Regions from separate parts of the Homo sapiens genome. Here all the other regions are linked to region 1. The links come from fine-mapping of genetic effects on gene expression. A gene starts in region 1. Each other region holds a variant in brackets. All regions are shown on one strand. Distances are from middle to middle. Region 1 holds the start of NT5C2 (5'-nucleotidase, cytosolic II). Region 2 holds the start of CYP17A1 (cytochrome P450 family 17 subfamily A member 1). Region 3 overlaps CNNM2 (cyclin and CBS domain divalent metal cation transport mediator 2). Region 4 overlaps CNNM2 (cyclin and CBS domain divalent metal cation transport mediator 2). Region 5 overlaps AS3MT (arsenite methyltransferase).

What was found.
Region 2: its variant is fine-mapped to the expression of NT5C2 in whole blood (TOPMed, PIP above 0.99).
Region 3: its variant is fine-mapped to the expression of NT5C2 in blood mononuclear cells (TOPMed, PIP above 0.99).
Region 4: its variant is fine-mapped to the expression of NT5C2 in testis (GTEx, PIP above 0.99).
Region 5: its variant is fine-mapped to the expression of NT5C2 in naive CD4 T cells (Schmiedel 2018, PIP 0.94).

What each region holds. Positions count from the first base shown.
Region 1 is chr10:103,188,982-103,195,488 of GRCh38, forward strand. NT5C2 (5'-nucleotidase, cytosolic II) reads right to left here and starts at 4,291. Exons shown (of 19, transcript NM_001351169.2): 1 at 4,255-4,291. RefSeq lists enhancers at 3,032-3,720, 3,721-4,407 and a silencer at 4,106-4,385.
Region 2 is chr10:102,836,073-102,842,574 of GRCh38, forward strand. CYP17A1 (cytochrome P450 family 17 subfamily A member 1) reads right to left here and starts at 1,341. Exons shown (of 8, transcript NM_000102.4): 1 at 993-1,341. The coding sequence starts at 1,289. RefSeq lists a promoter at 1,301-1,580. The variant C/T (reference allele first, on the strand shown) is at 2,023.
Region 3 is chr10:102,977,348-102,983,858 of GRCh38, forward strand. All of the region lies in intron 1 of CNNM2 (cyclin and CBS domain divalent metal cation transport mediator 2), which reads left to right. Among named protein-coding and RNA genes, the nearest start is that of CNNM2, 62 kb to the left of the region's middle. The variant A/G (reference allele first, on the strand shown) is at 3,106.
Region 4 is chr10:102,935,271-102,941,781 of GRCh38, forward strand. The region is part of intron 1 of CNNM2 (cyclin and CBS domain divalent metal cation transport mediator 2); the gene reads left to right. Among named protein-coding and RNA genes, the nearest start is that of CNNM2, 20 kb to the left of the region's middle. The variant C/T (reference allele first, on the strand shown) is at 2,754.
Region 5 is chr10:102,874,716-102,881,226 of GRCh38, forward strand. It overlaps AS3MT (arsenite methyltransferase), which reads left to right. Exons shown (of 11, transcript NM_020682.4): 7 at 2,239-2,320; 8 at 3,664-3,795; 9 at 4,134-4,276. BORCS7-ASMT (BORCS7-ASMT readthrough (NMD candidate)) reads left to right here. Exons shown (of 15, transcript NR_037644.1): 11 at 2,239-2,320; 12 at 3,664-3,795; 13 at 4,134-4,276. Among named protein-coding and RNA genes, the nearest start is that of AS3MT, 8.5 kb to the left of the region's middle. The variant CA/C (reference allele first, on the strand shown) is at 2,844.

The DNA.
Region 1 (6,507 bases):
ACAAAGTGAGACTCCGTCTCGGAAAAAAAAAAAGAGTGTGGGATGAAAGAGCCTGCTTGTACTATGTGCTTGGAAAGAGAAGACTGAAATCTGATGCCTGAAATTTAACGGCTTAAAAAAAAAAATCAGTAAGCTTGCTGAGTATTAGCATGTTTTCATTACAGATGCCCAGTGGGATATATATTTTTATAGGCTCATTAGTTTAATGGAGTTTCTTTAATGTTTTATTTTAGGTTCATCTTAAAATACTGTGAAATATTTCAAACACACAGAAAATAATATAATGATCATTTGATATGTCTACTACCCACCTTCTTTATCAAATTTTAACAATTAAAATTAAGGGCCGGGCGTGGTAGCTCACGCCTGTAATCGCAGCACTTTGGGAGGCCAAGGCGGACGGATCATGAGGTAAAGAGATTGAGACCATCCTGGCCAACATGGTGAAACCCCATCTCTACTAAAAATACAAAAATTAGCTGGGCGTGGTGGCACACGCCTTTAGTCCTAGCTACTCGGTAGGCTGAGGCAGGAGAATCGCTTGAACCCAGGAAGCGGAGGCTGCAGTGAGCCGAGATCGCACCACTGCACTACAGCCTGGCGACAGAGCGAGACTCCATCTCAAAAAAAAAAACGAAAAAAAAAACAAAGATTAAGACTGTCATAATTTTTTTAACTTTTTTCTTTTACTGTTTACTGAATTTTTTTTTTTTGAGATGCTCTGTCGCCCAAGCTGGAGTGCAGTGGCACGATATAGGCTCACTGCAACCTCTGCCTCCCAGGTTCAAGCGATTCTCGTGTCTCAGCCTCCTGAGTAGCTGGGACTACAGGTGGGCGCCATCACGCCCAGCTAATTTTTTATATTTTTAGTAGAGACGGGGTTTCACCATGTTGGCCAGGCTGGTCTCGAACTCCTGACCTCAGGTGATCCACCTGCCTCGACCTCCCAAAGTGCTGGGATTACAGGCGTGAGCCACCGCACCTGGCCGGTTTGCCGCATTAATTTTGTGGCTTTCTTTTTTTTTTTTTTTTTTTTTGAGACAGAGTTTCACTCTTGTCACCCAGGCTGGAGTGCGTGGCGCAATCTCAGCTCACTGCAACCTCCGCCTCCTGGGTTCAAGCGATTCTCCTGCCTCAGCCTCCCAAGTAGCTGGGATTACAGGCATGCGCTACCACGCCTGATTAATTTTTGTATTTTTAGTAGAGATGGGGTTTCACCATGTTGGCCAGGCTGGTCTCAAACTCCTGACCTCAGGTGGTCATTCACTCCGCTCTAATTGCAAAGAATCCATGTAGCATACTTGTAAACTGCTTACCAGAATTTCTCTTTCCAGTTTTATCTCAGACTACTGCTCTACCAAACCCTTTTAGTGAGAACAATCTATTAATCATACCCTCAATACATCCACTTCAGCATCTTCTCCCTACTCTGAAGTGTTACTGTTTTTCCTGATCCCACCAAGCTACATTAATATTCCTTCACTCTGAGCAAAAAAAACTAACATTTATAGAGAACTTAATGTGTGCCAGTATCACTTCAACTGAATTATTCTATTTAATCCACATAACTCTGTAAAATTTGTTCTATTTTTCCCTTCTCAAGGTGAGAGAAACTGAGTGAGCTTGTCTAAGGTTAACTGAGTTCCCCGAGGTTGCATGATGTTAAGTAGCAAGCCAGACTACAAAATCCGGGCCCTTAAATAAATGCAATGTCTCCTGGCTGAAAGTATGACTGCCTTTACTGCTCACGTCACTCAACATATGCCTTGTGATAGTTAGTATTTTGTGTTAAATGTCTAAAAACCTCAAAACATTACAACACTTATTCAACAAAAATTTACTAAGAGCCTGTGTGCCAGGCATTGTTGACTACCGGGGCACATTAGAGAGCATCTACTAATGAAGATTAGATGAATTCTCTAAATACATGGACATCCCAGAAATATTGGTAAGAGCAAAATCCCAAATAATATGTACACAGCAAGTGTACTAGATAAAAACCAGTCTATGTAAGTACTTTAAAAGAGCACAGTCATAACATGACAAAGTTGTGGGTTTTTGTTTTTGGGGATTTGTTGTTATTTACTATTTCACTGAATTAAGCTTTTGGTAAGAGAATTAAGCAACAGGGTCGGACGCAGTGGCTCAAGCCTGTAATCCCAGTACTTGGGAGGCCGAGGCGGGCAGATCACCTGAGGTCAGGAGTTCGAGACCAGCCTGACCAACTTGGAGAAACCCCGTCTCTACAAAATTAGCCAGGCGTGGTGGCGCATGCCTGTAATCCCAGCTACTCGGGAGGCCGAGGCAGGAGAACTGCTTGAACCCGGGAGGTGGAGGTTGCAATGAGCCAAGATCATGCCATTGCACTCCAGCCTGGCCAACAAGAGCAAAGCTCCGTCTCAAAAAAAAAAAAAAAAGAGAGAGAGAGGAAATACTTAAAAAAAAAAACCTGTGTTTTATGTACTCCTCTTTCCCCATAAAACAGGAGAAATAGCCTAGAGAAAGATTAATGAGCACCTCTGTGCCTAACATTCTATTGTAATCTGGCTTTCTTTAGGAAGATGTGATGTCTTCTGGTTAAGGGTGGCAGGTACTATAAGGGAATACTATCTATATAAATCTTCTTACAATTACAAACTTCTGAAAACTTGTAGCTGATGGTAAATTTTCATACAATGGCATCAAACCTTTGAACTGAAAGGAATCTTGCATAACATCTCCTTCAGAACCCCCCCCACTCCACCCCGCGCCCCTCCACCTTATTTTACAGATTTGTTGGTTACTAAATCCTAAAACCTTAATTCTGGGTCAATGAGAGTAATGCAGCTACCTATACTGTTGAAATGTAGTGGTTTACACTGCAATGGAAATGCACTTCAGAAATAAGTCTGTGTATGCTAGTATCAACCCTGCATGTGGAGTTTTTATTTTAATTACTAACCAGCTATGTTTTCTTGAACTTAACCTTTTTTGTTCTTTTTTTTTTTTCCACTCTCAGCTCACACCTATTTTTTTTCTCTTTTCGAACTTCACCCTTTCAGGCCTGGATGTCTTCATCTGGATAAATTCTAACCGTTGTTGAAAAGCCATGTGGTAAATATTTTTGAAACCTAAAGCCTTCTCTACGCAATAACACTAAGTTTTCATGGTAAATGACACAGTTTCAATATTCTCCCTTTCACATTATGGTCAGTAGTTTGCATTCGTTGCTTGAAGAGGCGAAATGAATAGTCTACAGACACTGGGAACCAAGTACAGCTCAATCCTGAAGAACTCATCGGCCCCTGGACGGGCGCGCACACACCCCCCTGTAATGGTGACTAGTCATTTCGGGGCGCTGTACTTCAGAGCACGACCCCCCTCAAACATCAAGGCCCTAAAGGTGAAAGCCCAGGAAAACGTCGATTCGGACAGCAGCCTCTACCTGCTGCTTTTAGAAGCTGTGGCCTGCCGGAGTCAAACCCCCAAAACGTTTTTCTTAAACTAAGGGTTCAGGCCTCAGATCGGCATCTCGCCCTCTCCGATTTCAGGAGCCCCGAAAAAAGGAGAAGAATAGGCCGCCACTGAACGGCTCAGCCCCCTGACCAGGAGCTGTCCGGATGTTTTTTGTGGCGGCTTGCAATTCGCTGTGACCTTTCCAGGAAGTGTTGCACACGGGCGTGTGGCAAACGAGCTGGCCGTTTCTCGCGGTCCTGCTAAAACGCTGTCAACCTGGCGCTCCACCAGAGGCCCCTTGGCTTCTCGGGAGGCGACCGAGGAGCTCTGGGGGCGGGGAGGCTTTTACAAGAAGCGAAAAGACGGCCTCAGGGGTGGCCGGGAACAGCCTGGAATCAGCTGGAGGACGTCAGCAGGACTGAGGAAAGGGCTACCACCAGCGTGAGGAAAGGGGGGAAGAGGGCGGAACGCGGCGAACGGCCGCGCTGGGAGGCTGAGGCGGGGTCCCAGCGAGCCGGCGGCTGGGAAACAATGGCGCGAGCGTGACGTGGGCCGGAGGCGTCGCGGCGGCGCGGAGGAAGGGGCTGCCGTGGGGCGGGGGCCGCACCGAGGGAGTTGGGAGGCGTGCGGCGTCCGCGAGCGCGCTGGCGGGGACTCGGCCTAAGGAGAGGGGCCTTGGGGCCATGGTCCCTGGGGGCCGGGGGCGGGGGCAGGCGGCGGCCGCTACCCTGGGGTCGCGTGTTCGGCCGCGCACCTCCCCACCTAGCTCCCCGTTCGCCCGCTCCTTCCCCGCCCGCCCACGGGGCCCGCCGCACTCACCGGCTCCAGCGCACCGCAACAATCCCAGCGCGCAACTGCCGCAGCCGCCTCAACGCGCGCCCTCCCCGCCCCCGCCGCCCGGCACCGCCCCGCGCCGCCCCTCTGCTCGCGCCCGGCCAGGGACCGGCGCGCTGTTCCGTCCCCCAGCTCCGCCGCAGAGTTCGGCGAAGCCGACGCTCCCTGACCGCGCTGCGTCTGTCTGTCCCGCGGGTCTGGAGATCTTCAAACGATGGAACACCGGCTTTGCCCTTCTGAGGGTCTCCATCCCTTGGCATTCTGCCTGCGCCCCTCAGCCTGGCCCTGGGCTAACCTCTCCACTGTGTCTCATTCAGAAGAAGCTTTTCCTTGGGAGGAGAGGGCATCCTTTTTCCCAGTCACAGAATGTTTTGGTCTAATGGACCTCAAGGCCCCTCATGCGTCCACACCCCCATGGCACCCTCGAATCCCCTTGATGGCTAAAAACACCAGCTTTGAAGTTTGTCAGAACGAGTTCCAGTCCCAGTACCACCACTTACAAACTGTAACCTCGGGCGAGGTACCTGACCTCCTATACCTGGTGCCCACATTTGTAGCACCAGGATAGGGAACAACAGTCCCCACATCAAAGGGTGTTGACGGGATGAAATCACACAATATAGGTGAGGCCCTCAGCAGGATCCTGGCACACAGTAAGCACTCAATAAATGTTCACCCCACCACCAGCAACTCAGCAGGAAGACTCCGCAAAAGCAGCTAGCTATTTCCAGAGGACTGAATTCCTTGGTCCGAGCAGCTCTCACCAGTGAGAAAATGTGTCTAAACTTCCACTCTCAGGGCCGAAATTCGATGCCTTGGAGCCACAGAGAACAAACGTCTAATCTCTCCTGGACCTTTGACTTTTCAGATACTTTACTTCTATCACCTCTGCCCAAGGTCTTCTCATTCCACATCAGTGTCTCCCGTTCCTTCCATTGTTCCTCCTCTGCCCTGGTTTTGAGGGTCTTTATCCCTCTCACGCAAATGGTAGATTTGACTGTGATTTCTTTAGAATACATCACCCAAGACTGAACCAAATGTTTGTGGTATCATCAGAGCAAAGCAGGACTATAGCTTCCTCCTTTTGGGACCTATCGCTTTGCACTCCTGCGATAAAGTTCTTGGCACCCATACTGTTGACTCATATTGGGCTTGCAGTCAACCAAAACCTCCGCGTCTTTTTAATAAGTGCTCCGCCAGAGCACTTCTACCCCTTCTTGTGCTTCTCAGCCAACTTCGCTTCAGGTCAGCTAAGGATAGACCTTGGGCCCCTCACCTTCTAAATTTCTCAGGATATATGGAAAAGAGGAATAGGGGTTGGAAGCTGGCATAACACAATCTTTAAACCAAGTGCATTTGAAAAAAGGCCAGGGTGGCGGGGCGTGGTAGCTCACACCTGTAATCCCATCACTTTGGGAAGCCAAGGCAGGTGGATCATTTGAGGTCAGGAGTTCAAGACCAGCCTGACCAACATGGCGAAACCCCATCTCTACTAAAAATACAAAAATTAGCTGGGCATGGTGGCACGCACCTGTAGTCCCAGCTACTCGGGAGGCTGAGGCAGGAGAATCGCTTGAACCCGGAAGGCGGAGGTTGCAGTGAGCCAAGATCACGCCACTGAACTCCAGCCTGGGCGACAGAGGGAGACTCCATCTCCAAAAAAAAAAAAAAAGAAGAAACGAAAAAAGGCCAGGGTTTGTGTCTAAACACTATGGTACTGAGAGAAAAACAAATATAGAGACACACACAAATGAATGTGATCACAACTGTGAAAAAAAACTGCACACGCAAAAGACTACAGGGAAATATGTAATTGATTATGTTGTTTTCTCTCAGTGATAAGATGGGGTGGTTTCTTCTTTGTACTTTTGTATTAATTTCTTACGGTGTTTGTATTACTTTTATAATCAAGAACTTTGTTTTAAAAAATAAATCAGAAAAAAGAATTTAAAAAATCAGAGAGATGGAATAACTTGAAAAAAACTGAAAACAAAGTTAAAAGATAACAGAATAAGGGGAAAACTATTCGCAATACACAAAAGACAAAGGATTTGTCTATAAAGGACTCTTAACAAATCAATAATAAAAAGAATGAGGCCGGGCGCGGTGGCTCACGCCTGTAATCCCAGCCCTTTGGGAGGCCGAGGCGGGCAGATCACGAGGTCAGGAGATTGAGACCATCCTGGCTAACGTGGTGAAACCCTGTCTCTACTAAAAACACAAAAAATTAGCTGGACG
Region 2 (6,502 bases), 350 kb before region 1:
GAGGAAGCCAGCAGAGGTGGGAGCTAGGTAGTTGGTCAGCAGACCTGGCTGATTGGTCCAAGAAAAAATAAACCAACCCTTGGCTTGATCAAAGCTGAGAGGCTGGCAGGGCACAGTGGCTTACGCCTATAATCCTAGCACTTTGGGAGGCTAAGGTGGGAGGATCACGAGGTCAGGAGATCGAGACCATCCTGGCTAACATGGTGAAACACCATCTCTACTAAAAATACAAAAAATTAGCGGGCATGGTGGCATGCTCCTGTAGTCCCAGGTACTCAGGAGGCTGAGGCAGGAGAATCACTTGAACCCGGGAGGCAGAGGTTGCAGTGAGCTGAGATTGGCCACTGCACTCCAGGCTGGGCGACAGAGAGAGACTCTGTCTCAAAAAAAAAAAAAAAAAAAAAAAATGCTGAGAGGCTGGGGGCCCTGCTGAGTGGGAGGCTCATCAGCAACCCTGAAATGTCATTGTAGAAAACTGCCCCTGTGAGCCTGAGTAGCTGGAAATAGCACCAGGAAAGCAGCAATCCCAGCCTGCAATAGCTAGGCTAATTCTCCCCAGCAGCTTTCATGGAGGACAGTAGTCACTGCCCCCATTTTCCATGAAAAGTAACATGAATCCTGGCTGTATAAGGGGCACTTACTGTGCTGGGTGCTAGGCTAAGTGCTGTACATGCACCTTCTCAGTCCATTAGAGAAGTCTAGGCTCAGAGAGAGGAGTGGAGTGAGGATTCCTTGACCCCTCAGACCACTGTGGTCCTCCCATCCCACCTCCTGGGCAGCCTGGTAGAGGAGACATTCCTTTAATTCTTCCTGCCTAATTTAGAGGCTGGGTGGGGGTCTGAAGGTTCACTCCCTTCACATCATCCCACTAGTCTACTTTGGGAAGAATTACAGGTTGTTGGAGCTGGAAGCCCCATTCTAGGCATGGTCTGAAGACCTGAACAATCCCAGGGGGTGGTGAAGGGGGCAGGGAGGAGATGGGCACCACTTACCATTTGAGGCCGCCCAGAGAAGTCCTTGCCCTTCTTAATAAGCACCTCCTTGGCCAGCTGGTGGTGGCCGACAATCACTGTAGTCTTGGTGCCCATACGAACCGAATAGATGGGGCCATATTTTTTCTGCAGCTTGAAGAAGTTGTTATGCATATGGCCGTGTCTGGGGAGGAATGGCAGGCTGCCCACCAGGGGCAGGGACAGGAGGCTCTTGGGGTACTTGGCACCAGGGCACCTTCTCTTGGGCCAAAACAAATAAGCTAGGGTAAGCAGCAAGAGAGCCACGAGCTCCCACATGGTGGCTGGGTGCCGGCAGGCAAGATAGACAGCAGTGGAGTAGAAGAGCTGTGGCAACTCTAGGGCACAAGGAGGCCTTTTAAAGGGCTACCCTGATCTTCACCTTGACTTTGTGTTATCTCTTGCCTTGTGGAAAGATTCTCCTGGAGCCCAGCCAGGCCTGAGCTCATATCCAGAAGGGAGAGAGGCGGTGGGAGTGAAGGCCTCCTCAAGGGCTGGCTCAACTCCAGGGCAAACCTCCGGAGGAGGAGCTAGGTAAGGGAGGTCAGTTGATCACCCTCTGAGGAGCTCCCCATGCTTGAATGACTCCAGAGTGCGAATGGTATCTGGGCTCAGGAGTCAAGGCTTGGAACTTTCCATGTTGCAAAATCAAAATCACTGGACAGATGACAGATTCAGGAGGGTCACAAGTAGCAGGGACTGTTAAAGGTCTTTTATGCTTCTTTTTTTTTTTTTCAGAGTCTTGCTCCATCACCAGGCTGGTGTGCAGTGGTGTGACTGTCCATGCAGCCCTGGCCCTCCAGCCCATGTGGTTTTGGCAGCGATAAGGGCTGTGGGTTAATGGTCCCCAAAATAAAAATGTACATGTGTATGGGAACGAAAGGGGTGCTAAGCTGTGGGGAGCGGTGGAAGGGAAGGGAGAGATAGGTCAGTACTAGGAATGCCAGAGGTGGGAGGCCGTTTCATAACATTTCTTGTTGATCAAAATGCCATCAACACCTTCTTTGCTCAT[C/T]AGCAGGACTAGCGTACTGGGGGAACCCACCCCCAATATTTCAACGTAGGTTCTTTCTATAAGTGTCAGCCGGCTGAGAAATAAAGAGAGACAGTATAAAGAGAGGAATTTTACAGCTGGGCCGCCGGGGGTGGCATCACATATCGGTAGGACTGTGATACCCACCTGAGCCTCAAACCAGCAAGTTTTTATTAAGGGTTTCAAAAAGGGGAGGGGGTGTAAGAACAGGGAGTAGGTACAAAGATCACATGCTTCAAAGGGCGAAAAGCAGAACTACTAATAAGTGTCTAACAAAGATCACATGCTTCTGAGGGAAAGGACAAAGGGCAAAAGCAGAACTACCGATAAGGGTCCAACAAAGATCACAAGGCAAAGGGCAAAAGCAGAACCACTGATAAGGGTCCAACAAAGATCACAAGGCAAAGGGCAAAAGCAGAACTACAGATGAGGGTCTATGTTCAGCGGTGCACATACTGTCTTGATAAACACCTTAAACAACAGCAAACAGGGTTCGACAGCAGAGAACCGGTCTGACCACAAATTTACCAGGGCGGAGTTTTTCCCCACCCTAGTAAGCCTGAGGGTACTGCAGGAGACCAGGGCGTATCTCAGTCCTTATCTCAACTGCACAAGATAGACATTCCCAGAGCGGCTGTTTATAGACCTCCCCCCAGGAATGCATTCCTTTCCCAGGGTATTAATAATAATACTCCTTGCTAGGAAAAGAATTTAGTGATATCTTCCCTACTTGCATGTCCATTTATAGCCTCTCTCAAGAAGGAAAATATGGCTCTTTCTGCCCGACCCTGCAGGCAGTCAGACCTTATGGTTGTTTTCCCTTGTTCCCTAAAAATTGCTCTTATTCTGTTCTTTTTCAAGGTGCACTAATTTCATATTGTTCAAACACATGTCTTACAATCAATTTGTACAGTTAACACAATTATCACAGTGGTCCTGAAGTGACAAACATCCTCAGCTTACAAAGATAACAGGATTAAGAGATTAAAGTAAAGACAGGCATAAGAAATTATAAAAGTATTATTTGGGAACTGATAAATGTCCATATTAAAATGAAATCTTCACAATTTATGTTCCTCTGCCATGGCTCCAGCCAGTCCCTCCATTCAGGGTCCCTGACTTCCCGCAACATCTCTCCCTTTCTTTTTATATAAATGTGCCGTGGCGATGAAGGCTTGCTCGTTCTCTCGGTTTTGATGCAGGATTCTTTGACTGGTCTGGCACACTAAAAACAAGCCGATTAAACAGAGAAACATGATTCCAAAATTTCCTACAGTGGAGCCCCCAGTAGACTTAATCCAAGTTGTGGAGTTTAGTCCAGAAAGACTTTCTGCCACCTGATCTAACGCCTCAGCTCCAGGCACAATGGATAAATGAGCTTGAGAGGCTTCAAAAATTTGTTTCTTTAATTTAGTTATGTCCAAGGATAAATTATCTTCCCTACCCAGAAGGTGTCCTTTGACCATTTCCCATGATCAGTCTCGTTGTAGGAATATGGTGTGCTATAGAAATCAGAAGTGTTGCAATCGAACTGCATTTGCATGTGATGTTCGAGACTCATTAGCTGGTCCCCAAGCCAAATAACAGACTGTCTTAAATCATTAGCTAATTTTTGATCAATGCCTTGTTGAGGATTCCACATTTGGGTGGAATTGCCTTACCAATCATTAACAAAATTAGCCATTTGAATAGATTGGTGTAATGCCACTCCGGCAGTGGTGGCCAGTGCAGTGACTGTAATTAGGCCCATGATCACAGTGATTAAAGTGAAAACAAATCTCTTGATCTTTTGAGAATTCGTTGTAACACTTCATTAATTAAATGTACTGAGGGGGAAGATTCCCAAGTTCTGGGTAAAGTTACTGGTATCCAGATTCCTTCTCAAGCTCGAACCAACATTACACTTTTCCTGAGTCAAAACGGGAGTTAACACAAGTGGATAAATGACAATTAATGCATTGGACGGTTTGATTGTTCATCCAAATTTTGATATTTCCCACTAACAGCATGTAAGGAGGCTTAACACAACTCTGTATAATAGTCAGGCTGGAGGTAAACAAAGCAGAATGTTTGAATCTACGTTGATACCGAGGGGGAGGAGTGGCGGTGGCAACGCCCAATGTTTGATGCCGTAAAGAAGCAATCCGAGGTGCCCGGGGATTCTGAAGAGGTAGGGGGACATACCTGGGTCCAGAAGAATTATCATAATGCCAATCAGAGTCCCATAAAGGAGGACTGGCATCAAAAAGAGGAAAATGGTCCAAAGGGGATTTATCATGGGTTTCAGAATCACGGATGTGAGGGGTGGTAGTGGGGACAACAGAAAGAAAAGTTTCCCCTTCCCATACTCGCAGTCTGGACATGGCAATAGCCAATTTCCAAAGTTCTGGGTGTTCTGGGCTCAGAATGGGGGATATCATAAGAGGCCTCGGGTGGCAGGGGGTAATGCTCTTATCTTCCCATTTTAAGGGACAGAATGAGCTGAACCTCCTATGCAAAGTAGGATGATGATCCTCGTCCTCCCAATAAGAAATAAAACAAGTAGCCTCCAGGCATTCCCTTCCAGCAGAAGAGCAACTGCTTTTCAAATAGCCCTTTGGTGCCCAGTCTCTTACTAAACCATATGAGTCATTTTTTAATAGTACTGCATGTGAATTAACACAATCTTCCCAAATTAAAGATTTAGATGGGCCCTCAAAAATTTTAGGACATGGTTTTCCTACAGGTTTATATTGAAAGTAGGGGGTATCTCCTATTACTCCCCCTTTCATTTGTCTTAAAGGAGAAAGGGAGAGGCTGGAGACCAAATGTCCCCGTTCCCCTGTGGCTGATCTCTCCAGAAGGTACGCAGCCCAGACTTGAGTTTCTAGATGGATACAACAAGGTGCATGTCCGAGGCACAGAGGAGGGTATTTATAACCGTAGGAACATTAAATGCAGTGCCTTCTTTTCCTGGTTGAGTGGGGCAACGGTCATCTGTAGCTCCAGGCATCCACACACTATCATTAGTATAGATTTCCGCAGGAGCATCCATCCAGGTGAGAGGTTGAATAAGTGGAGGAAAAGGCACATAAGCCCAGCAAGAATAATTTTGTGTAGCAGGTAAATCAATGTGAGGGGAAACTGGTGAGACAGAAAGTATAAGGAAGAGAATTATTAAATAAAACCTATTGTAAGCAAGATCCAGTGCTGAAGGAGGAATAGAAGAATAAGGGGATGTTATTTTCAGGCTAATAGAAATGGTGAGATTTTTAGGTTCGTAAGGAGAAAAAGAAAGGGAATTAGGAGAAGTGGGATTAGTTAGAGGGGTTTCTGTTGCCATTAGGGAGGATTGAACCAGACCCATTTTGATTTGGCGTGCCAGTTTCTGAGGAGTTGGCACAGATCTCACCAGGTATGAGGGTGGTCTCTGACGTGGACGTCTCTTCCCTGTGGTTTTTATTGTCAGTATTCACATGAAGTTTAAGTCTTCTAGTGGGCACCCAGACAGGGGATTGATGATCTCCTGGTGAAACACAAGCATACCCTCTTCCCCATGTTATAATCGTTCCAGGTTTCCAGGTATTGGTCTGGGAATTAAAGGCAAAGAATTAGGTAGTAAATTTAGAGGAATGGTACTACAGAGATTGACCGCCCCTCCCCTTACTCTGGAGCATAGATAAGCGTTGTACTGAGACAGAAGAAGAGGCTGGGACACATCTGGGTTGGCTGTAGGTAAATTTGTTTGTGCTGGGGGCTGCGTTGGGACCGATTGAAGCAGAAAGGCAACATTCGTCTGAGTCTGAGGTGTCCCATTTGAAATTGGGGCCTAGGACTGGCCCCATTTCCCATTTCCCTGGTTCTGTGGCAAGGGATTTCCATCTATATCAGACTTAGAGTGGCAAGTACTTGCCCAATGTTTACCTTTACAACAACAAGGGCAAACAGTAGCAGGAGCATTTGGCTGTGTTTTTTGAGCCGGCTTGGCTGCCTTTAAGTTTTTAACTGTGCAATTTTTTCGAGTATGACCAAGTTGACCACAATTATAGCAGGCTCCAAGAAAAGAATCAGTCGAGCCAGTTTGATTGCCGTCCTTCATGGCCCGTGCCCACAGAATAGCTTTGTGGGCACAGAATAGCTTTGTGTCTGATCCAATGCCTTCATATTTAATATACTCAGGCAACACCTCACGATCAGGTAAATTTTGTTGTTGGACGGAATGCATGGCCATTTTACACTCATGGTTCGCATTCTCAAAAGCTAACATTCGAAGAAGAATACCTTGAGCGTGCTCATCAGAGACAGATTTTTCAACAGCATCTTGTAATTTAGCTAAAAAATCAGGATATAATTCATTGTGACCCTGTTTAACAGTAGTAAAAGAAACAGGAGCTTGGCCTGGGGCGCGTAATTTATCCCAAGCTCTCATACACACCTTTGTTACTTGTTCCACGGTGAGAGCATCAAAGCCTAATTGGGCAGT
Region 3 (6,511 bases), 210 kb before region 1:
TTCTGAGCATCATGTCAGTGCTCAAAAAGTTTTGGATTTTGGAGTATTTCAGATTTTGGATTTGGGATACTCAACCTGTATTTCAACTGGGAATAGTTTGTTTCTCAAATTGTAGTTCCCTTATGATTTGAGGACATACTCTAAGGATCCTTAAGTTTCCTTGTGAAAAAATTTTTAAAAATTGTGTTATTGGCTGGGCGCAGTGGCTCATGCCTATAATCCCAGCACTTTGGGAGGCCAAGGTGGGTGGATCACCTGAGGTCAGGAGTTCAAGACCAGCCTGACCAACATAATGAAATTCTGTCTCTACTAAAAATGCAAAAATTAGCCGAGTGTGGTGGCACAAACCTGTAGTCCCAGCTACTGGGGTGGCTGAGGCAGGAGAATCACTTGAACTCTGGAGGCGGAGGTTGCAGTAAGCCAAGAGCGAGACTCTGTCTACTTTTTTTTGTTTTTAAAAGAGGAAGTGAGGAAAGTAGGTGAACAGGAGGAATGATGAATGATGCTGTTAGACAGAATCTCCAGACCATTCCTTGGTCTTTGAGTTCCTCCTGGGACCTATTTTGTTGTTGTTGTCGTCGAGACAGAGTCTTGCTCTGTTGCCCAGGCTGGAGTGCAATGGTGTGATCTCTGCTCACCACAACCTCCACCTCCTGGGTTCAAGCGATTCTCCTGCCTCAGCTTCCCAAGTAGCTGGGATTACAGGCATGCACCACCACGCCTGGCTAACTTTTTGTATTTTTAGTAGAGACAGCGTTTCACCATGTTGGCCAGGCTGGTCTCAAACTCCTGACCTCGTGATCCACCCGCCTCGGCCTCCCAAAGTGCTGGGATGACGGACGTAAGCCACCATGCCTGGACTTTTTTTTTTTTTTTTAAGCTCCACTTAGAGCCATCTCAAACATACGATTTTCAAAACTGGACTCGATTTTTTTTTTCCTCTTCTCCCCGCCCTCTGCAAATCTATACTTGCTGCCATCATCCTTATTTTAATTAATGGCCGTCCTGTCTTTCCAGTTGTCAGGGTAAAATCTGAATGTTATCCTTTATGACTTCGATTCTCTTAACCTTAGGTGTAATCTGTTAGGAAATCTTACTGACTCTAGCTTCAGAATATTTCCAGAATGTGGCCACTCCATACCATCTCTACCTCTACCACCCAAGCCCCTGTCATTTTATAGCATATTATGGCTGTACCATTAGCCTCCTTGCTGGTCTCCTTGCTGTTTTATCTTTGCCTCCTTATAATTATTTTCCACACAGCAGTCAGTGATCTTTCAAACAAAAAACTTTACTGATGTTTATAAGCACACACAAAAATGCACATGTTATGAGTTTGCAGTGAATTTTCGCAAACTGGTCATACCTGTGTGTGACCAGCGCCCAGAGCAAGAAACGGAATGTGACCAGCAACTCATGCTGCCTTCCAGTCCCTGTCCCAAGGGTAATCATCACCTTGACTTGTAGAACATAGGTCAGTTTTGTTGTTTTTGTACTTTATCTATAATAAATGGAATCGTACAATATGTACTGTATTGAGTCTGGCTTCTTTTATGCAGCCTTATGTGTGTGTGAATCATCCATGATGTTTTATGAAATTGTAAATGGTTTCTTCTCATTGCTGTGTGCTATCACATTGTGTTAATATACCACGATTTATTTATCCATTCTTCCATTCTGCTAATGGGCATTCAGATAGTTCCCGGCTTTAGGCTATTTTGAATCATGCTGCTTGGACATTCTAGTACGAGTCTTTTGGCAAATATATGTATGTGTTTATGTTGGGTATATACCTAGGAGTAGGATCTGTGGTTCATGAGGTATGTGTGGGTTCGGGCTTTGTATTACCAAATAATTTTCCAAAATGGTTGTACCCCAGCGAGTGATCTTTTAAAATATTTGTTAAATCCTATTATTTGTTGTTTGAAAGCTTGTCAGTGGTTTATCAACTCACTCAATAATAGCTGAAATTCTTACAGTGGCATATCACTTGTCTTCCTACTTCTCTTTGAACATGCTAAGCACACGTATCTTCAGGCCTTTGTGCTAGCTGCCCCCACTACCTCATTTGTTATACCACCTAGCTATGTTACCTGCTTAAATTCAGATGTCTGCTCACAGGTCACTAACATATGTAAAATAGCCTATTCTTTTCATCTCTGTCCCTTTATTTTGCATTATTTTTCCTCGTACTACTTACTACTGAGCATGTCTATGTTTAATATGTGTAACATTTGTCTCCCCGCCACCCACCAGGGACTTTGTTTTTTTGTTAATTGTTGTATCCATTATCCTCTAGAACAGTAGACATTAATAGTTGCCCAATAAATAGTTGAGTGAGTAAATGAATACATAAAACAAATAGTTGTAATAGACATAATGGATGAAAATAGAATTTGGGGAGAATAAGACAAATGAGGTTAAAAATTGATAAAAATTACTTAATTTTAATTTTTATTAAAACATAGCTGAAAAAGACACAGGGCTTAAAATAGCAACTCCTTATCTCATTCTAATTCCTACTCTCCAAAGTTAACTACTTTGTTCTCTTCCATCTCTTTCTTTTCTTTTTATTTTTTTTTTTGAGACATATTCTTGCTGGATCACCCAGCCTGGAGTGCGGCGGGGTGATCTCGGCTCACTGCAATCTCTGCCTCCTGGGTTCAAGCCATTCTCCTGCCTCAACCTCCCAAGTAGCTGGGATTACAGGCACGTGCCACCAAGCCCAGCTAAGTTTTGTATTTTTTAGTAGAGACAAGTGTTTCGCCATGTTGGCAGGCTGGTCTCAGACGCCATGTTGGCCAGGCTGGTCTCAGAACTCCTGACCTCAAGTGATCTGCCCACCTCGGCCTCCCAGAGTGCTGGGATTACAGGTGTGAGCCACTGCGTCCAGCCTCATCTCTTTCTCATACCATTAAACTTGATATTTCTAAACTTTTAGTTAAATTGCTATCTATTTTATTTCAGTTTTAGTGGGTTTTTTTTTTTTTCATAGCTCACTGCAGCCTCAACTTCCTGGCTTAGGTGATCCTCCCACCTTAGCCTCCTGAGTAGCTGGACTACAGGCGCATACCACTACACCTGGCTAATTTTTGTATCTTTTGT[A/G]GAGACAGGGTCTCGCCATGTTATCCAAGCTGGTCTCGAACTCCTGGGCTCAAGTGATCTGCCCGCCTTGGGCTCCAGAGTGGTGGGATTATAGGTGTGAGGTGCCATGCCCAACCCAGTTTTAGATCTTCTTTGTTGGCTCTTACGCTGAAAGATAAGGACTTTCCTTTTCTGTATTTCCCCTCTCCCCACACCACACATTCATACTTTTCTTCCTCTATCCTGTTGTTATAATTATCAGATTTAAGATGTGCTTTAGATGTCACTTCCTTAGAGAAATGTTCCCTAACTTTTCATCTTAAACCAATGTGTTCAGTGTTTACATTATTATGACTACATAAAGATTGTTCATATGATACAATCAACATATTGCGATCACATGCTTTTTTTTCTTCCCTGGAATCCTTCATAAATCTCTTTTTCTTTGCTTACTTTTCTTCACATCACCAGCTTATCCACATACACTTTGCTGGAATTCTAAAGTAAATACATCAGGTTATGCATCAGTTCTTTAGCTTGTTTCGGAAGCACATCTCCTAGAACTGCCAACCTGTGCTGGCTCTGTACTGCTGTTGCCCTGAATCTTACCTTCACAAATTAAGAATTCCCTTCATCACCAGGTGTGGTGGCTCGCACCTGTAATCCCAGCACTTTGGGAGGCTGAAACAGGTGATCGCTTGAGTCCAGGACTTCAGACCATTCTGGGCAACATGGCATAACCCTATCTCTACAAAAAAAAATTTAAAAATTAGCCAGGTGTGATGGCGTGTGCCTGTGGTTCCAGCTACTTGAGAGGCTGAGATGGGAGGATCACCTGAGTCCGGGAGGTTGAGGCTGCAGTGAGCTGTGATCATGCCAGTGTACTTCAGCTTGGGTGACAGAGCGAGACCAGTCTCAAAAAAAAACCCCAAAACAAATAATTCCCTTCCTCTTTTTTCCTATATTAAATTTTTTACCTCTGGATCCCCACATCAGGATCTTTGTTGGTTTACTCACTTATCTTGGGAGAACATATCCTCCAGTAGTTCCTAGAGAAAAGTGATCCTCCCACCTCAGCCTCCCGAGTAGCTGGGACCCACAGGTGCATGCCACCACACCCGGCTAACTTTGGTATTTTTTTTTTTTAAGTCAAGGTTCGCCATGTTGCCCAGGCTGGTTTTGAACTCCTGAGCTCAAGCGATTTGCCTGCCTTGGCCTCCCAACGTGCTGGGATTATAGGGATACACCACCACGCCTGACCAGGGATGGTAATTTTTTTTTTGATCTTGTGTATCAGTTATCTATTGCCATAATACTATATCTCAGATCACTGAGAGACCTCAGTTGCACATAATAGTAAGTGTTTATTGGCCATATGTCTAGGATAGTTGGCTGGGAGGCTCTGCTGATCTCGAGGGTTGGCCAGCTATTAGCTGATCTAGGATGGCCTTGGTTGGAATGACTAGGGTGACTGCCTCTTCTTCATTTGTTTCATCTTTCTTGGAGGACCAGTGGTCTAGCCAAGGTGTGCTTTTCTCATGGTAACAGTGGAGGGCAAATGGAATGCATAAGTGCTTTTCTTACATTTGAAGTATATCCACTACATATTCAGAAATATCCTATTTTGGAACTATAGTCATTTGGTGACCAGAAAAATTATCCATGCAAATGTGCAGAGAAAAAATTTAAGATATTTAGTATCCTTCAGACGACTAAACAGTCGTCACTTTCTCAAGGAGGTGTTCTTTGCCTTTTTATATTAGGTAAGATTCTCCTTTAAATCTCACTATTAGCACTTGGTTATTGTTATTTCATAATTATCACACTGGCTATATTATTTGATTCATATTGGTCTGTCTCTCTAGACCTTAAGCTCCACTGAAGACAGCAACCCAGTCCAGCATAGGGTTAGCCTGGGGCCTGCAGTAGTGAGTACATAATAAATATTTGTCAGACAAATGAATGAAATGATTAGATCTCAGGAATAGAAGGTATTTTTAGGGTTCTTTTTATTGGCTCTTTTTGTATTTGAAGTGTGTTCCTTCTTCAAGGATTTGGCAGAGAAGAGGAAAAACATAGACCATTACTAATTTGCAGGAGAGAGAAGCTGGCCCAGCTTTGGGCTGTTTGCTCGGCCTAGCTGCATTCCCCTGTGTAATCAAGACTGTAAAGCTTTGATGGGTAGTTAGTTCTTTGTGGCTTTAGGGCTTTCCGATATAAGTAATTGTTTTCATGAGTGTATTAATTTGACTCTGGAACTTGTAAGCAACTGGAAACAAGACTGTTCCTACTTGTTTATGTGAATGTTTGTTGTTCTGAATTGGATGACGATACTCATTGTTATTTCAGAGGAGTGGTTGAAGAATACATTTTTAAACTAATTAGTGATGGAGTTGCAATACAGTTTTGTCATTGGTGCTGCATTCAATAAACTTATATTACAGTCTAAATCTTGGAATGTATGGAAAATTAACATTAATTAAACTAATCTAAGTTACAGAAAGCTGACAAGTGAACAGAACTGAATATTAAAAACTATTCCTTAAACATGAGTTTACTTCATCCACTCTATGGTGTTTAGTTCTACTTAATAATTCCAGCCTTTTCATAATTTGAAAGGAGACCCATATTTTGTGGCTTATTGTTTGTTCAACTTTGATATTGATTTTAATTGTTAGGACAGGAAATTGTGATAGAACTAGAAATTTCCTCCCAGGATTGAAAAAAGACCTTGCTCAGGTGTGATCTAAATATTATATTTCTTATTAATGACAAGTTTTTTTGTGTTTTGCTTTTTTGATAATTAAGGAGTAAAATATATGCTATATATTATATAACTATGGAATTTTAGGTCTTAAATGGACAATATCAAAGCAGCCTAGCTGTCTTTAAAATATTTATATTTTTATATATATTTTATATATATATTTATATATATAAATTTTTTAGGTCGGGCGTGGTGGCTCACACCTGTAATCCCAGCACTTTGGGAGGCCAAGTCGGGCAGATCACAAGGTCAGGAGATTGAGATCATCCTGGCCAACATGGTGAAACCCTGTCTCTACTAAAAATACAAAAATTACTGCAGCCTTGACCTCCCAGGCTCAAGTGATCCTCTCACCTCAGCCTCCCAAGTAGCTGGGATCGTAGGTGCACACCACGATGCTCGGCTAGTTTTTTAAATTTTTGTGTAGAGACAGGGTCTTTCTATGTTGCCCAGGCTGGTCTTGAACTCTTGGGCTCAAGTGCTCCTCCTTCCTTGTCTTCCCAAAGTGCTGGGATTACAGGCATGAGCCACCTGGCCTAGTTTGTTTCATTTTACATAGCACTTAAATTGTAAATTTTTTTTTTTTTGACAGAGTCTTGCTCTGTTGCCCAGGCTGGAATACAGTGGCGGGATCTTGGCTTATTGCAACCTCCACCTCCC
Region 4 (6,511 bases), 250 kb before region 1:
CTAGACAATATTGGGAGACCCTGCCTCTACAGAAAATAAAAAGAAAATGGGTGTGGTGGTGCACACCTGTGGTCTTAGCTACTTGGGGGGTTGAGGTGGGAGGATCACTTGAGCCAGGAGGTCAAGGCTACAGTGAGCTGTGATCACACCTCTGCAATCCAGTCTGAGCAACAGAGGAGACCTCATCTCAAAAAAAACTTTTGTAGTATCTTTCTTCTCCACATCAATTTATCAAGGGTCTTCTTTGGTTTTATTTGCAAAGACTAGAAGAAACCCTGACTTCTGTTACTCTGCATTTCTTACTGCTATGAGCAGTATGGTCCTTTAAAAAAAAATTTTTTTTTTTTTTTTTTTGAGACAGGGTCTTGCTCTATTGCCCAGGATGGAGTGCAGTGACACAATCACAGCTCACTGCAGCCCTGGTTGACTAGCAGCGCTCAAGTGATCCTCCCGCCTCAGCCTGCCAAATAGCTGTGATCACAGGCACACTCCACTGCACCTGGCTTTTTTTTTTTTTTTTTTTTTTTTGTAGAAGGCAAAGTGTCGCTATGTTGCCCAGGCTGGTCTTTAACTCCTGGCCTCAAGCAGTCCTTCCACCTTGGACTCCTAAAGTGTTGGGATTACGATATGAAATGCCACGCCCGGCCTAGCACTATAATCCTTGAGGTTTTTGGGTTCCAGGTGACCAGAAGAGACAAAATGAAACTCTATGGTGTTTTTTTTTGTTTGTTTTTTTGGTTTTTTTTTTGGTGCTGTGGGGGTAGGGGGCTGGTAATCTGAGAGGGAGAATGTTTTCCCATGCTAGCAAAGACAGATTGAGGGCATCATCTGATCTTTATGGGAGTGTGCAAAGCCTCAGTTTTTCCATTTGCCCATCTGCAATCATAGAAACAATGTGCTGACTCAACTCGGAGCCTCTGCGGAGTGGCGTTTGGGTTTAGACAGTCCTCAGAATCATTCAAGAGATGGAAATATTTGAGCAGGTCTTCAGAGGTAAAATTAAAACTAAAAACAACTAGAACAAGATAGCATGCTTTCTTATCTCTTTCAAGATTATTTCCTTTAGTCACTAGTGTACCTCCTTGATGTAAGGTTTGGCAGGAATAATTTCATCTCTGTAGAGTTGATAACTAAGCAGAGAAAAAACCCTACCTTTTAGTCATTGCTTTTCATCTTGCTATCATCAGTCTGATCCTTGAGGGTTTGGGGTTCCAGGTAAACAGAAGAGACAAAATGAAACTCTTTGCTTTTTTTTTTTTTTTTGGTGCAATGGGGGTGGGGGAGATTGGGTGTGGAGAGGGGTGAGATTCTGCTGGAAACAAGTCAATTGGCTAAAATACTCTTTTAATCATATTTTGTGGACCATCTTCTGCTTAGTTTTGCTCTTTTATGTTTTTATTTGCTTGTTCATATATACATACATTAACCTGCAACAACTAGAAGAACATTTACCAAAATATTAACCAACAGTGACTATCTTTTGATGTGGTGGGTTTAGGGGAGGAAGTATGTTTTTCTGTGTTGCTCCAAGTTTTTCTGTTTAAAGCATGTATTTTGTAATGTTTGGGGGAAACCAAATCCATCAAAATAAAGTGCAAGTTTTGTAACCTGAACCACTCATTGAGGTACAGAATTGAAATGTATTTAGATGAAACTCACAGGTATTTTTTCTTGGAGAATGTGGAATATTTTATCTATAGTGCAGCTGTGCTGTCATTTATGCCATTTTTTCCTCCTCATTGTGATTCTTACTGTTTGGGGTGAAAGATGAGTAGTATTTTAAAGCCCGTAATGTGTGTGAGTACACACGTGACATCTTAGTAAGATTCATTTTGTGTGAGAAATAAGGGAATTTAGGCTTTTGGGTTACATTTGTTTTCAAAACATGTTAATAGGTGACAAAAATCCAGTTTGTTTAGATTTGTATGTAGTCTGCCTGGAATGAAACTTTTTTATACTTACATGATAGCCCTGATTAAATAAAAGTTTGGTGAAAGCCAGCAGGGTGGCATGTGCCCCATGATCCCAGCTACTCTTGAGGCTGAGGTAGGAAGATAGCAAGTTCAAGCCCAGCCTGGGCAAAATAGCGAGACCCCATCTCAAAAAAAAAAAAATGTTTTGTTAAGTAGTTGAGTTCCAACTAGATCTGTACTTTTAACATAAAGCTATAATCCCAAGATACCTCTTATTTGGGGACATGATGGTTTTGGAAACTGGTGCTTCCTTTTGTCTAAATAAATAATCACTGTAAATCTAGTCTTGATTATTAAAAGGAGACAAAAAGATAAAAGGAGTGTTCTGAACCACCTGTGCTTGAAGCTCAGTTAATAGTTTCCAGACTATTAAGCCTACAAAATGTATATCTTACACATTTTGCTAAAATAAAAAGACCTTTTAGCTTTGATCAAGACAAGATCAAATATTTGGTTTGATTATACTCCTAAAACGTACATATTCTCAGACAGATAAACAGATGTGATTTTCTTTCGTTCTTTTTCTGGATGTATACAGAAACCTTTTTTTTTTCTTTTTTTGGTAGAGACAGGCTCTCCCTATGTTGCCCAGGCTGGTCTCAAACTATTGGGCTCAAACAATCCTCCCACCTTGGCTTCCCAAAGTGTTGGGAGTATAGGCATGAGCCACTGCACCCAACCCCAGAAACGTTTAATTTAACTATAGGATAAGTTAGCTATCATTTAGGTGCCTTTACTAAAGTCTGTTAAAATGACATAAAATAATGACAATGTGTGGGG[C/T]GCAGTGACTCACGCCTATAATCCAAGCACTTTGGGAGGCCCAGTTGGGAGGATGGCTTGAGCCCAGGAGTTTGAGACCAGCCTGGGCAACATAGTGAGACCTCATCTCTACAAAAAAATTAAAAAATTAGGCCGGGTGCGGTGGCACGTACCTGTAATCCCAGCACTCTGGGAGGCCGAGGCAGGTGGATTGCTCAAGATCAGGAGTTCGAGACCAGCCTGGCCAACATGGTGAAACCCCATCTCTTCTAAAAAAAAAAAAATACAAAAATTAGCTGGGCATGGTGGTGGGCACCTGTAATCCCAGCTACTCGAGAGGCTGAGGCAGGGGAATTGCTTGAACCCAGGAGGCGGCGCTTGCAGTGAGCCAAGATTGTGCCACTGCACTCCAGCCTGGGTGACAGAGCAACGCTCTGTCTCAAAAAATGGAAAAAAAAAAAGAAAAAATTAGCTGAGCATGGTGGCACACACCTGTCATGCTGGCTACTCAGGAGGCTGAAGTAGGGGGATTGCTTGAGCCTGGGAAGTAGAGGCTGCAGTTAGATGGGATTGCGCCACTGCACTCCTGCCTGGGTGACAGAGTGAGACCCTGTCTCAAAAAAAAAAAAAAAAAAAAAAAAAGACAACGCCTCTACTCCTTTAGCCAACTTTCTAAAAAAATTAAACATTTTAGGGAGAGAAATCGATGTTTCCTTTACTTACAGATGGCATTGCTCTTAAATAGTCCTATGCCTATTAGACAGTTAAATTTAATTTTTACTGAGTTCCTTGATATTAAAAATATACCAGCGTTTTGACCTGATTACTGTAGAGTGAAGATCATCAGTTGACACAGAACTTCCAGCCAGCATTTTAATGCTTTCCTCTGAAATATGAATGGACAGCGATAGATCTCTGAATATTTGAGGAGAGCCTCTAATAGGAGTTATGGAGACTAAAATAAACAAGCAGACAAAGGCCCTTAGTTGATTTAAGCTGATTTATCTCACATTACCTAAATATCCAAAAAGTCAGCAGTTATTACTTTATCTGTGACCTCCCAAAGCCACTTACCAAACCAGGTATGAGTAGCAAATTCGAAGATTTGTTGCCTTTTTCAGACATGGTGTAGGTAGGATCTTTCCTGTATTCATTCAACCTGCCTAGTTGTTTGAGGATCCCAGCCAGGTTGAAGGTTGTAAATATTTCCTTAAGGCTTACTTAGCTTCAGTGCAGGATCAGAGGCTAATTTCTGGCAGAGTTCTATGTCTTAGGGGATCATTAGCTGTCTATTTTTCCTTTCTCTTTTTACTGCAAGATTTCTTCAAGAATAGCTAGTTACTTCCTTTTCCTTGCCATCTTTAATCCTCTACAATCTTGTTTCAAACAGTTACAACCCATGACTTCTTTTATTGCCACATCTACATCTTGGTTGTTACCTTTCCTCTCTTGCTTGGCCCCTTTACTGTTTTTAGCTGTAGGTGAGGACCACTCTTCAGGTTGGCTCCTGCTGTTTCTCTGACTGCTTCCTTTTTCTTTTTAGGTTCTTGATTTTCCCTTCCATTTCTAATTGAGCAGTCCCCAAGATTTTGTCCTTATGTCTCCTTCCATGTTCTTTTTCCATCTTGAGAAGACTTTCTTTGACTCATCTTTAATCCATAAGCATGTATTTAGCATCATAATAAAGAACTGGCGGCCAGGCGCAGTGGCTCACGCCTGTAATCCCAGCACTTTGGTATGGACGAATCACCTGAGGTCAGGAGTTCAAGATCAGCATGACCAACATGGTGAAACACCGTCTCTACTAAAAATACAAAAATCAGCTGGGCGTGGCGCACACCTGTAATCCCAGCTACTCGGGAGGCTGAGGCAGGAGAATCGCTTGAATCCGGGAGGTGGAGGCTGCAGTGATCTGAGATCGCGCCACTGCACTCCAGCCTGGGCGACAGGGTGAGTCTCCATCTCAAAAAACAAACAAACAACAACAACAACAACAACAAAAAAAAAACCGCCATGTAGGAGACGGCCAAAGAGGAATTAGACAGATTTCCTGCTCTCAGGTAACTTGAAGTACATATGAATTTATACTCTTTTCCATTCTGTATCTTCTTTTTTAAAAATTTTTATTTTTAGTAGATGTGGGGTTTTACCATGTTGGCCAGGCTGGTCTCAAACTCCTGACCTCAAGTGATCTGCCTGCCTTGGCCTTCCAAGGTGTTGGGATTACAGGTGTGAGCCACTGCGCCTGGCCTCCCCTCTGTATATTGTTATCAAACATAATTGATCTGTTTTGAAAACGCATCTTTTACTTTTTGTTTTCTCTCCATTCCCACTGCTACAGTGCCAGCCCTTAGCCCCTCTTATTTGTGCTTATTATGTTTTGGGTGCTCCAGAAATACATTTTGTTTTATTTTATTTTATTTATTTATTTTTTGAGATGGAGTCTCACTCTGTCACCCAGGCTGGAGTGCACTGGCGCAATCTCGGCTCACTGCAAGCTCCGCCTCCCGGGTTCACACCATTCTCCTGTCTCAGCCTCCCAAGTAGCTGGGACTACAGGTGCCTGCCACCATGCCTGGCTAATTTTTTGTATTTTTAGTAGAGACAGGGTTTCACCGTGTTAGCCAGGATGGTCTTGATCTCCTGACCTCGTGATCCGCCCTCCTTGGCCTCCTAAAGTGCTGGGATTACAGGTGTGAGCCACCGCGCCTGGTCCTTATTTTATTATTATTTTTTTGAGATGGAGTCTCGTTCTGTCACCCAGGCTGGAGTGCAGTGGCACTATCTTGGCTCACTGAAACCTCCACCTCCAGGGTTCAAGTGATTTTCCTGCCTCAGCCTCCCAGGTAGTTGGGATTACAGGTGCCTGCCATCACGCCTGGCCAAATTTTTATATTTTTAGTAGAGATGGGGTTTCACACTATGTTGTCCAGGCTGGTCACAAACTCCTGACCTCAAGTGATCCACCTGCCTTGGCCTCCCAAAGGGTTGGGATTACATATGAATTTGTACTCTTTTCCATTCTGTATCTGGGTGATACAGAATGTGTGAGCCATTGCGCCCAGCCTAGAAATACATTTTAAATTAATGCATGAATCAGTCTATTTTGATTATCATTAAACTTCCAAGATGGCTTTCTTTATTGTCTGTTTCATCAAGCATACCTCTGCCAGGCTGATCTTCCTTAAACATAACTTTCATCTTACCAGTTTGTTAAAAACCTCTTATAATTACAGTAATATGATATTGTCTTTATTTTATTTTTTATTTTATAAAAAATTACGTAGTAGAGATGGGGTCTCGCTATGTTGCCCAGGCTGGTCTTAAACAACTGGGCTCAAGTGATCTGCCCGCCTTGGCCTACCAAAGTGCTGGGATTACAGGCGTGAGCCACTGTGCCCAGTTGATATTGTCTTTTAACAAGTCAAAATAGCCAGCATAAAAAAAAATGATCATATACAACTGGCAAGGTCCCATGGGATATGGCCCCTTCTTTGGCTGCATCTCCTACTCCTCCAGCAGCTACAGTGACCTCTGGCTGTTTCCTGAGTGCCACAGGTACTCTAGGCATGCCCCTGCCTTGGAGCCTGTGTTGTTGCTGCTCCTTCTCCCTGGAATGTCCTTTCGCCAGATAGCTTTGCAGCTTGCTCCCTCCTTCCTTCAGATCTGTACTCAGATATCCCCGCTGTGGCCAGGCTGTCCATGGCAGTCTTACGATTCCAGCCCCTCTCCTGCAACTTTTTCTCCTTAGCCCTCTACTGTACTATATCTTATTCATC
Region 5 (6,511 bases), 310 kb before region 1:
TAAGTCTTGTTTGTTCCCCCTTGAACTAAGAGCTCAAACTCTCTTAATTTATCCATTAAATGAATAAGGGGTGGCAAAAGGGGGAAGGGGCAGGAATACCCCGGATATGGATTACTTTCCCTCTTAGGTTGCAAAAGGTAGTAAATCCGAGGTGACAGTTGTCACTGAATGTGTTAAGGTATTTGCTTTCTTGACTGTCTCTCCTATTTGCTGCTGTACATGATCCTAGAAGAGCATCTGTGGAGCTATAGGAATCTTTGCACTGACTACTAATGATTGCTTTGAATATACTCTCTTCTAGCATGTACAGTGTTTCTCAGGGCTTCTGATTTCTTATCTGTCATGATTTCAGATCTTTGGGAAGTTACAGAAGATGGAACTTTTACATTAACTACTTGCTAAAAGGAAAGCTTGCAGGAGCTCCACAGCCTTCATTGTATCATGAGATGTGTATCTTCATGATAGTAGATGAAATATTCAGCCAGGTGCGGTAGCTCACACCTGTAATCCCAGTGCTGTGGGAGGCCGAGGCGGGCAGATCACCTGAGGTCAGGAGTTTGAGACCAGCTTGGCCAACATGGAGAAACTCTGTCTCTACTAAAAATACAAAAATTAGCTGGGTGTGGTGGTGCGTGCCTGTAATCCCAGCTCCTCGGGAGGCTGAGGTAGGAGAATAGCTTGAACCCAGAAGTCAGAGGTTGCAGTGAGCCAGGATCGTGCCACTGCACTCCAGCCTGGGAGACAGAGCGAGACTCCATCTCAAAAAAAAAAAAAAAAAAAAAAGATTCTAGCTGGGTGGGTGGTACATGCCTGTACTCCCAGCTACTTGGATGCTGAGGCAAGAGGATTGCTTGAGCTCTGGAGTTTGTGTGCAGCTTGGGCAATATAGTGTGATCACTGCCTCTAAAAAAATGTTTTTTTTTTTGAGATGGAGTCTCACTCTGCTGTCCAGGCTGTAGTGCAGTGGCAGGATTTCATCTCACTGCAACCTCCGCCTCCTGGGTTCAAACAATTCTTTTGCCTCAGCCTCCCTAGTAGCTGGGACTACAGGCGTGTGCCACCATGCCCAGCTAATTTTTGTACTTTTAGTAGAGACAAGATTTCACCATATTGGTCAGGCTGATCTTGAACTCCTGATCTCATGATCTGCCTCAGCCTCCCAAAGTGCTGGGATTACAGGCATGAGCCGCTGTGCCTGGCCAAAATTTTTTTTTAAATTGACAACAGATTTTTGAGATTTTTGGTTTACAAAGCTGTCATAGAACTCAAATACAAATATCTATATAGAAATGATTTAATGATTTAGTGATGTCTTTGTTAGTATGTCATTTTACACGCCAGTTCACTATCTCCACCAAAAATGTACTTATAAAAGGTAGAAACACTATTATAGAATCTAGATCTCCAGGTTTCCAGGTTTTTGAAATTAGCTAAATAAAATGTTAAGTTCCTGATCACTCATTTGCCTTACATTTTAAGGATAATATTTTAAAGATAAAATGTGTTGTTATAAAAGTAAATAACAACATTACAAAAAGTTATATTTTTTAATAGAAATGGGGTCTTGCTGTCACCCAGGCTGGAATGCAGTGTCACTATCTGTACCCCTCTAACTCCTGAGTTAGAGGGGTCCAGATAGTGACACTCACTGTACCCTCTAACTCCTGGGCTCAAACAATCCTCTTGAGTAGCTAGGACTCCAGGCACATGCCACCATGCCCAGCTAGTTTTTAAATTTCTATATGGGAGAGAGGGTCTTGCTGTGTTGCCAAGGCTAGTCTCAAACTGCTCTCCTCCAGCAAGCCTCCCACTTCGGCCTCCTGAGTCATTGGGATTAGAGGCCTGAGCCATCATACCTGGCAAAGTTATACTATTCTTAAGAGATAAAAGATTATGAATACTGATGATATCCTCTGTTCTACAATGACCTGGGGCTGCTTTTGGTTCAGATTGGCTAAAAATTTAAATGTAAGTAACCTGAAAATCTTTATTTAGGAGACAGACACTCTTAGAATGTGATTTTATTACCTGTTGGATAAGCCACTGGGAGGAAAAAAAACCTTGGCACTTGACTATTGATTGTAACTAAAGAGGCAGCTGCTATTTGTTCACAAAGGGTCAGCTTAAACATTGCTATTGATTTTTAAATTTGATTTTGTTCCCCTATTCCTTTCTTTGTTATGTGGGGTCAATGTAATCATTAATCATCTTGTTTGGACTAATATGCCTCTGTTTCAGCATGGTGGGGAGTTATATTTCAGTGACGTCTATACGAGCCTTGAACTGCCAGAAGAAATCAGGACACACAAAGTTTTATGGGGTAGGTGATTTTGTTTAGTTTAGTATTAAGGCAGATGGTTGTACATGTGCAGAACTCCTTTCTGCTAATAGCCAGGATGAGGCTATATGAGATCACATGGGGTTAGGCCATGAGGCCAAGGTTCCATTCTTCCTCTGCCATTCAAAAGTGATAGGGCTTTGGATAGTTTAATTCATCTCTTTGAGTTATCGTTTTCCAAATTGTAAAATGTAAATAATAATACAATCTGCCTTATAGGGCTGTTATGAAGATTAAATGGGATAAAGAATGGGAAAAATACTTTGAAAACTCTAGTGTGGAAATGAGGACAATTGTTCCCAAGCTGGTGTCCTCTTAGTCCCCTTATGTTCTCATCATTATTGTGTTCTTTATTCCTTTATTATCATTTTAATAGTCTGGAAGTTGAGATAAATGCATGCTTTTCATCAGTCTATGAAATCAAAAGTTCTTATTCTTAAAATAATATTAACTTTATTCTTACTATGTAATAATAAATAGGTACCGTTAACAAGTTGGAAAGTGC[CA/C]AAAAAAAAAAAAAAAAAGAAAAAATTACTAAGCTGGACACAGTGGCACACACCTGTAACCCCAGATATTTGGGAGGCTGAGTCAGGAGGATTGCTTGAGCCTAGGAGTTCAGGTACAGCCTGGGTGTCATAGTAAAACCCTATCTCTTAAAAAAATTACTTATAATCATATAACCCAGTGATAACTTCTTTTTTTTTTTTTTTTTTTTTTGAGATGGAGTCTCGCTCTGTCACCCAGGCTAGAGTGCAGTGGCGCAATCTTGGCTCACTGCAACCTCCACTTCCCGGGTTCAAGTGATTCTCCTGCCTCAGCCTCCCAAGTAGCTGGGATTACAGGTGCATGCCACCATGCCCAGCTAATTTTTGTATTTTTAGTAGAGATGGGGTTTCACTGTGTTGGCCAGGCTGGTCTCCAACACCTGACCTCATGATCTGCCCACCTCGGCCTCCCAAAGTGCTGGGATTACAGGCATGAGCCACCGCGCTCGGCCTATGATTTATTTTTTATACTACTTTATTCACATAACAGTGCTTTTCAGAATGTGGCGTACTGCATACATGAATATTATGCTTGCAGCTGAGTAGAACCAATCCACCAGTGAGTGTCCTGAAGAATGGTTCCTAGAGACCATCAGCTAGCACACCCAGTCTTAACCATGGCTTTCTAGACCTTGGAGGGATGCTCAAGTTAGCTTCTACTGCTAGGATCTATGTTTTAACTAATACCATGTCCTAATTAATTATATAGAAGAATAGTTCCCTTAATACTGTATTAAGTGTTGGCTGGTCTGTGGTTTTTTGTTGTTGTTTGTTTTTTAGGTGAGTGTCTGGGTGGTGCTTTATACTGGAAGGAACTTGCTGTCCTTGCTCAAAAAATTGGGTTCTGCCCTCCACGTTTGGTCACTGCCAATCTCATTACAATTCAAAACAAGGAACTGGAAAGAGTTATCGGTAAGATATGACAGACAGCAGGGACTATTATAACTACAGCTTGAATGATTGAAATGTGGTGATTAGTAAGTAACTTCTGAAGGAGTCTCATTGAGGGATACTTTCTGTTATCTGGAAATAGCTATCTTGCCTCCTGTACAATGGTAACCCCCCAAAAATTTTGATATTTAATAAAGCACTTTGAAGTCATTCAGTAAATAGAGTGAAGTGCTCAGAAAGATAACTGATGACATGCAAGGAAGAAAATCATCTTTATAACGTGTTTGCTCCTTGTCTGCTGAGCAAGGCAACAACTGGGGGAGTGCTGGAGATGAACCGTGAATAAATTCTATTTTTAGGTGACTGTCGTTTTGTTTCTGCAACATTTCGCCTCTTCAAACACTCTAAGACAGGACCAACCAAGAGATGCCAAGTTATTTACAATGGAGGAATTACAGGACATGAAAAAGAACTAATGTTTGATGCCAATTTTACATTTAAGGTAAATAAAACAATTTCCATGACTTCTGGTATTCTTTCTGCTCTTGCCCTTGCTCCAGCTATCTTTTCTTGACTTTGCATTGCCTCCCATTTTTCTGGTGTTGGTTTGTTTGTGTGTGTGTTTAAATGTATGTGTGTGTTTCAAGTGGAGTAAAAAAGCATTTTTTCCCCAATACTTATTTATTTATTGACAGGGTCTCGCTCTGTCACCCAGGCTGGAGTGCAGTAGCACAATCATAGTTCACTGCAGCCTGACCTCCTGGGCTCAAGCGATCCTCCCACCTCAGGCTTCTGAGTAGCTAGGACTACAGACTCATCACCACACCTGGCTAATATTTGTATTTTTTGTAGAGATGGGGTTTTGCCATGTTGCCCAGACTGGTCTTGAACTCCTGGGCTCAAGTGATGTGCCCACCTCAGCCTCCCAAAGTGCTGGGATTACAGGCGTGAACCACCGTGCCCAGCCCTCAATATTTATTATAAAAATGTTTTTGGCCAGGTGCGGTGGCTCACACCTGTAATCCTAGCACTTTGGGAGGCTGAGGCAGGCAGATTACCTGAGGTCAGGAGTTCGAGACCAGCCTGACGAACATGGCGAAAACCCATCTCTACTAATAAAAATACAAAAATTAGCCGGGCGTGGTGGTGGGTGCCTGTAATCCCAACTACTCTGGAGGCTGAGGCAGGAGAATTGCATGAACCCGGGAGGTGGAGGTTGAGGTGAGCTGAGATCATGCCATTGCACTCCAGCCTGGGCAACAGAGTGAGACTCCATCTCAAAAAAAAAAAAAAAAAAAGAAGTTTTTGAATACAGAAAAGTTAATAGTACAATGAATACCCACATAGGCATTACCTATATTTCAGCAATTGAGAACATTTTTCCATGTTTGTGTGTTTATATGTGTATATATATATATATATTTATTTGCTGAGCCATTGAAAATAAGTTGCAGATATTATGACATTTTACCCTTAAATATTTCAGCATGCGTCCCATAGGAATGTAATATCCCTCTGCATAATCACAATACCATTACACACCTAAGAAAACTTTTTACAAGAAGCCTCATTCAGACATTGGATTAATAGGGCTATAGAGAAGTAGGATGGAAAAGAGTAGGAGTATGTACAATAGTATTTCAATTGTTTAATTGTGTCAAGGAATTAAGAAATTTTAATGTTGGATGATGGCACTAATTGGCATTTTTACTGCCCTGTGCATAGTAAGATTTGTTTTCTCAAAATGGAAAAGTTCAGGCTTTGGAATCAGATACCTGGGTTCAAATTCTGGCTCTATTATTATTGTTTTTTATTTTTTTTTCTGAATGTCACTAGACAAACTTTTATTGAAGCATAAATTGTGGTACAGAAATACATTTTAACTGATTTAAGTCCAACACCAGTGAAAGGAGAGATTATGGCACCAAAACTTTCCCTTTCCTATCATACCATGATTTAGATTATGATGCAATCTACATTTCTCTTTTCTAGGCTTTGTCCCATACAAATTTGGGCAGTTTTTCAACATTAGAATTTCAACATTAGAATTCTTAATTCTATTAGGAAAAAAAGCAACAAAAAAACCAGACCTCAAGTCAACAAATCTATTGGATATTGTTTATGAACGAAGTCCACGTTAAGCATTGGTCCTCAAAACAGAGCTCCTCAAAATATTAGGTGCTGTGCTCATTACAGAATCAAACTGATCACACTGATTGAAAACTTCCTCAATGAAATTTTCAATCAACAACATGCTTCAAATAAAAGTCAAACAGTGTTCCAACCACTTGACTTCAAACCAAGTAGATTTTAGGTTTAGAAACACTAAAAAAAGGTGTTTCATTTATAAATACAGAAGGAACAAAAACATCACTGCATCAATCCAGAAATTATCAAAATATTTAGAGGACAAGAAATATAAAATTTAGTCAACTTTGCTGCTTTCTCAGTTCCTTAAAATCCCAGAGTATCTGCAAATATAGCTAAAAAGTACCAACTCTTGAAAGCCTATATTACTAGTCATTTCCCATTGAGTATTTTGGAATTTTATTTATGTTCTACTTATTTATTCATGTATTCTGCTTTATGATGTTTATCTGAATAATCTGGACAAATTCTCATTCTGGGCAGTCATTCGTTTCATCCTATGAATGCCATGGTGAGGGAAACAGTGTAGTTAGAGGAACAGATGAAGTCAGAACACTCACATGCATCACGGTCACAGAACTTTAAGTCA